2 separate regions of the Homo sapiens genome follow, and region 1 is linked to region 2. Evidence: fine-mapped expression QTL. A gene starts in region 2. The other region holds a variant in brackets. All regions are shown on one strand. Distances are between the middles of the regions. Region 1 overlaps COA1 (cytochrome c oxidase assembly factor 1). Region 2 holds the start of STK17A (serine/threonine kinase 17a).

The links. PIP is the estimated chance that this variant, and not a neighbour inherited with it, causes the effect.
Region 1: its variant is the best candidate, but not a certain one, in a credible set for the expression of STK17A in whole blood (INTERVAL, PIP 0.73).

Annotation. Positions count from the first base shown.
Region 1 is chr7:43,712,599-43,715,620 of GRCh38, forward strand. The region is part of intron 1 of COA1 (cytochrome c oxidase assembly factor 1); the gene reads right to left. Among named protein-coding and RNA genes, the nearest start is that of COA1, 15 kb to the right of the region's middle. The variant T/C (reference allele first, on the strand shown) is at 1,744.
Region 2 is chr7:43,581,749-43,584,531 of GRCh38, forward strand. STK17A (serine/threonine kinase 17a) reads left to right here and starts at 1,360. Exons shown (of 7, transcript NM_004760.3): 1 at 1,360-1,701. The coding sequence starts at 1,496. RefSeq lists a silencer at 980-1,759 and enhancers at 2,160-2,209, 2,340-2,449.

The DNA of each region.
Region 1 (3,022 bases), 130 kb after region 2:
TTATTAGACTGAACACATGGCAGGCACATTCAATCTGCAAACTTCAATCTTCTACTGTTGGTCGTTTTCTTGAATTATTTTCACCTTTTCATTTCCCCTATTTTATCTGCAACTCAACTGTATAAACATTGAACCTCAGGAACAGTCAGCTAAGTGTCCTCTGTCTTTTTGCCTACTTCTTAGGAGATTTCCTGACCATTATCTTACAACCTTCCAAAGATTTTCATTTCCACTATCATGTTTTAAACTTTTTTCATTTTCTAGCTGGACTTTTTTTTTTATTGACACATTGTCATTACATATATTTGAGGGGTACAATTTGAGGTTTAAATACATATATATGGTTTTTTTGTCTTGTTTTCTTTTGCTATTTGAGACAGAGTCTCGTTCTGTCACCCAAGCTGGAGTGCAGTGGCGTGATCTCAGCTCACTGCAAACTTTGCCTCCTGGCTCAAGCAATTCTCCTGCCTCAGCCTCCCAAATAGCTGGGATGACAGGATGCACCACCATGCCTGGCTAATTTTTGTATTTTTAGTGGAAATGGGGTTTTGCCATGTTGCCCAGGCTGATCTTGAACTCCTGACCTCAAGTAATCTGCCCACCTTGGCCTCCCAAAGTGCTGGGGATACAGGCATGAGCCACCATGCCCAGCCTCAATACATATATATGTTATATAATGATCAAATCAGAGTATTTAGCATGTCCATCATCTCACGCACTTATCACTTCCTTCTGGTAAGAACACTCAAAAGCCTCTCTTCTAGCAATTTTGCTACAATACCTTACTATTAACCATAATCACCCTTCTGTGGAATAGAATACCAGAACTTATTCCTCCTAACTATAACTTTGTACTCATTTGAACGACCTCTCCCTACCTACCTTCCCCTCTCCCTGCCCAAGTCTCTGGTAAGTTTTATGGCTAGTCCTTTATAGAGCATCCTGTTTTTATTCATCTTCATCTCATCTCTCTGAATATATCTGTAATTGGGGTAGGAGATTGTTGGTAACTGTTTTTTTCCCCTGCAAAGTCTGTATTTCTTCCAAGTTGCTTTTTTGTTTTGCTTAATTCCCACCACCCACCTTTGATGCTGGATGCTTTCCTCAAATAACTGGTAATCCTTGGGTATTTGCTTATGATTAAGACTGGGGGTCTAGAGCTAGGTGCACTGGCTCAGGCCTGTAATTCCAGCACTTTGGGAGGCCAAGGTGGGCAGATCATTTGACATCAGGAGTTCGAGACCAGCCTGACCAACATGGTGAAAGCCTGTCTCTACTAAAAATACAAAAATTAGCCAGGCATGGTGGCGCACACCCATAATCCCAGCTACTCAAGAGGCTGAGGCAGAATTCCTTGAACCAAAGAGACAAAGGTTGCAGTGAGCCGAGATCACACCACTGCACTCTGTTTAAAAAATATATTAAAACACAGATGGCAGGAAAAAAAAATTAGCCAGGCACGGTGGTATGCACCAATAGTCCCAGCTACTCAGGAGGGAGGATCACTTGAGTCCGGGACTTCCAGGTTGCAATGAGGTAGGATCATGCCACTGCACTCCAGCCTGGGTGACAGAGCAAAACCATGTCTCTAAAAAAATTAAAAATAAAAATAAATAGTGAATCATCTTTTTGTAATAGAGTTATACTAAAACTTTAAAAGATTTTCTGTTTAAAAAATAAAGATACAATTATAAACCTATGGCTTATTACTAGTATGAACCAATACAGTATAAAAATTATATA[T/C]TGAGGCTGGGTGTGGTGGCTCATACCTGTAATCCCAGCACTTTGGGAGGCCGAGGAGGGTGGATTGCCTGAGGTCAGGAGTTCAACGCTAGCCTGGCCAACATGGTGAAACCCCATCTCTACTAAGAAATACAAAAATTAGCCGGGTATGGTGGTGCAAGCCTGTAATCCCAGCTACTCGGGAGGCTGAGGCAGGAGAATTGCTTGAACCCGGGAGGCAGAGGTTGCAGTGAGCTGAGATAGTGCCATTGCACTCCAGCCTGGGCTACAAGAGCGAAACTCCATCTCAAAAAAAAAAAAAATTATATATTGAGAAAATGTATAAAAATGATTTGTATCTGACACAGACACGGGATACTAGAAGAAATTAAAAAAGAAACAATAGGGTGGGCACAGTGGCTCACATCTGTAATCCCAGCACTTTGGGAAACCAATGCAGATGGATCACTTGCAGCCAGGAGTTCGAGACCAGCCTGGCCAACATGGTGAAATCTCGTCTACTAAAACTACAAAAAATTTAGCTGGACATGGTGGTGCACACCTATAATCCCAGCTACTCAGGTGGCTGAGGCACAAGATCACTTGAGCCCGGGAGGTAGCAGTTGCAGTAAGCCAAGACTGCACCACTGCACTCCAGCCTGGGCAAAAGAGTGAGCCTCTTGTCTAAAAAAAAAAAAAAAAAAAAAAAAAAGGAAACATTTAATACAAAAATAAATGCCAAATAAAAATCATTCTAAAAACTGAAAGATAATACTGTATTTAGAAGTTATCATTCTTAATATGAAAGCTTGAAACACACCAAGTATTACTTGCCTTTTCCAATAGTCTTGAACTTTGTTTCATAATATTCCTGATACAGGAAAAAATTCATACATTTAACATTGACATTGATCAAATTAATCTGAGTGCATCAAACAGCATCTTTAAATTGAATGTTAAGGGTATGTTGCTTGGTGAAACTCCGTCTCTACTAAAAATACAAAAAAAAATGCCAGGCGTGGTGGCAAGCACCTGTAGTCCCAGCTACTCGGAAGGCTGAGGCAGGAGAATGGCGTGAACCCGGGAGGCAGACGTTGCAGTGAGCGGAGATCGTGCCACTGCACTCCAGCCTGGGCAACAGAGCAAGACTCTATCTCAAAAAAAAAAAAAAAGAGTATGTTGCTTCATATAAGCTTGTTTACCTTCTTAATGATTAACTATTTTGGCTGCCTCCTCTCATTTTTGTTTTGCCTTTGAATATTGCTTTCACTAATTTTAGATCAAGTTCTCATTTCATGTT
Region 2 (2,783 bases):
TGGGAAAAGTGGTGGCTTTCTGAGCTGCCTATCTTTCCAGGATTTCAGTCATCCAAGTCCTTGCTGGGAGAGGAAATTTTTAACTTTTGTCAACTTTTCTATTTTTTCTTAGTGAGAATATTGAACACAAATAAACTAGTATATCAGTGCCAGAAGCAAAACTCCACTGAGACAGTCTGAGTAGAGCAGTGGTGTGATTTGGTTTCGATTTTTAAAAGATCACTCTCATTGCCTTGAAAATGAACTATGCGACATTAGGGAGAAAGAAGGATGGAAGCAGGTGGTCCAGTTAGTAAACTATCACAATAATCCAGGTAAGAGATAACGATGGCTCAGGCCATGGTGGTAAGGTGGAAATAGAGAGAAGTGATCAAACGCCGCATCTAGTTTGAAGGAAAAGACAAGAGGGTTTACTGACAAACTGGAGATGAGCATGAGAGAGGAATCAATGCTCATCCCAAGATTTTTGGCCTGAACAGCTAGAAGGAAGGAGATGAAGAAAACTGAGACGGGGAAAGCTGGGTAGGAGTGCATTCATGAAGACCAATCAGCAACTTACTTTTGTGTATGTTAAGTCTGAGATGCTAATTTGACATGTAAGTGGAGATGCCAAATGCATAGTCAAATACACCAGTCTGAAGTTCAGGGAATATTTGGAAGCTAGAGATACAAATTCTGTAGTCATGAGCATATAGATGGTAATTAAAGTCGTAAGACCGGATGAGAGGACCTCGAAAGTAAATATAGAGACGACTACAGACAATATAATAGTGTCTATTTCATAGGGCCGGTGTGCAGGGTTAATAATATTTATACAACTCTGCCTCCAGACCCCTCTCCCAGTGTACGGAGATCAGGATCTCATCACCCCTCCCCACCACGTGAAGTCCTGCTTACAGCTCAAATGCCTTTTATTAACCGAAGTGCCTCCAGACCCCTCCCCTCCTCACCACGTGAAGTCCCGCTTACAGCTCAAATGCCTTTTATTAACCGAAGGTCAGCTTTTGTGACTCTCAGACGCTCAACAGGTGCGCAACTCTGCTAACGCAGTAGGCTGTCCTGGCCAAAGGGTGGTGCTGTGAGTCGCCTCCAGCCTCCGGGCCGTCCCGAAAGCTGCACCTTCTCCCCCTGAGCTGCAGAGGGCGCGCGTGAGGCATCGGGCGCTCAGGACCCCGCGGGAGCTCAGCGAGGGGGCGGGCGGCCACGGAGTGAGGCCGGGGCGGGGTCGGGCGCGGGGCGGACGTGGGGAGGGGTTGGCCGGGGCCAGAAGCAGGGTGCAGGGCAGGCGCGGGGCGGTCACGGGGGCGGGGCCGGTCGCGGGGCGCGGGGCGGGCCCGAGCTACCGGTAGTCTGCCTGCCGCAGTCCGAGCGCCGCGCTGGGGAGAGCGGGTGTTTGAAGGCTCCGCGGACCGGCACTAGGAGCCGGGGGCGGGTCCGTGACCCTCCGGCTGCTCGGAGTGAACAGGCGGCCAGGAAAGAAGCGGGCCTGAACACCATGATCCCTTTGGAGAAGCCAGGCAGCGGCGGCTCCTCCCCAGGCGCCACCTCAGGCTCGGGCCGGGCAGGCCGGGGTCTGAGCGGGCCGTGCCGGCCGCCGCCGCCGCCCCAGGCCCGCGGGCTGCTGACAGAGATACGCGCCGTGGTGCGCACCGAGCCCTTCCAGGACGGCTACAGCCTGTGCCCGGGCCGGGAGCTGGGCAGGTGAGGACGGGCGGGGCCCGGCGCGGAACCTTCCCGGACGCGCGGGGCGGGACGTGGGCGCCGATAAGTGCCGGCGCCGCGGCGGCGAGGCTGAAGTGGCGTTGCTGCTGCCGATAACGCGCGTTGTGACTTGGCACAAACTTGGGTGCCGACGGCAAGTAGGGCAGCCGAGTCGCACCAGCGCCCCCTCCACGCGCCGCGCCCAGCAAGCGAGTGGTGGTAACTCGATGGCGGTCCCGGAGGCGCGGACACTTTCCTCAGCCCTTTCGTTCTCTGTGGCGTTTCGAATGGCTATTTAACGAGAGAAGGTGCGGGCCGCGCTCTGCCTTTCACCCCGAGCAGCGGGTCTGAAAACCAGAGGTCTGTGGAGCCGACTTTGCATTTTTCCTTCAACTCTTGCGACTTTCTTGGTCTGCCTGTGTGGTTTTAATAAAATACAGCATCCGTTGTGACCGCTTCCTTTGCACCGGCGCTCTGTTACCTTGTGTCGGTCTTCTGCTGAATTCATTTTCGTTTTCTTGGTTGGTTTTCTGCCGTTTTAGTTCTAAAGCATTTAGGTCCCTTTGCTTCGAGTTTAGATTGGTTTCTTTCGTGGGCGCTTGGCCCTTTTCTCGCTTTTTACTTTGCTGGGAACCGATTCTTGCCTTCTCCCCCCACCCCACGCTAGCCCACCCTTTTTTTGTGGGAGTAGAGAGAGCTTACAACTTGGTCTGTAAAGTTGCAGGTGCAGGCTGTTCGGATGCTTTACATTTTGTATGCTGAAGAGGGGTGATCGAGTGATTTTTGTGGGGTTTGGCGACTCTTCCTTGAGAACAGTTTGAAGAAGTTGTTAAATACTCTGGCTTTGGGGGCAGACCTGAGTTCATATTCGTGCCCTTCTTGCTGTGTTTGCCTTTGGAGGGGTTAGACTCTCCAGCCTCACTTTCCTCATCCGTAAAATCGTATAATGATGACAGTACCTACCTCAGAGGTGGCCTGAAGATGCCATGCTTGTCAAGCGCATACCACTGGGCTTGCCACATGGCGTTCAGTAAATGTTCGCATTATTGCCAGCATTTGTCATGGTTGCAAAATAGCACCAT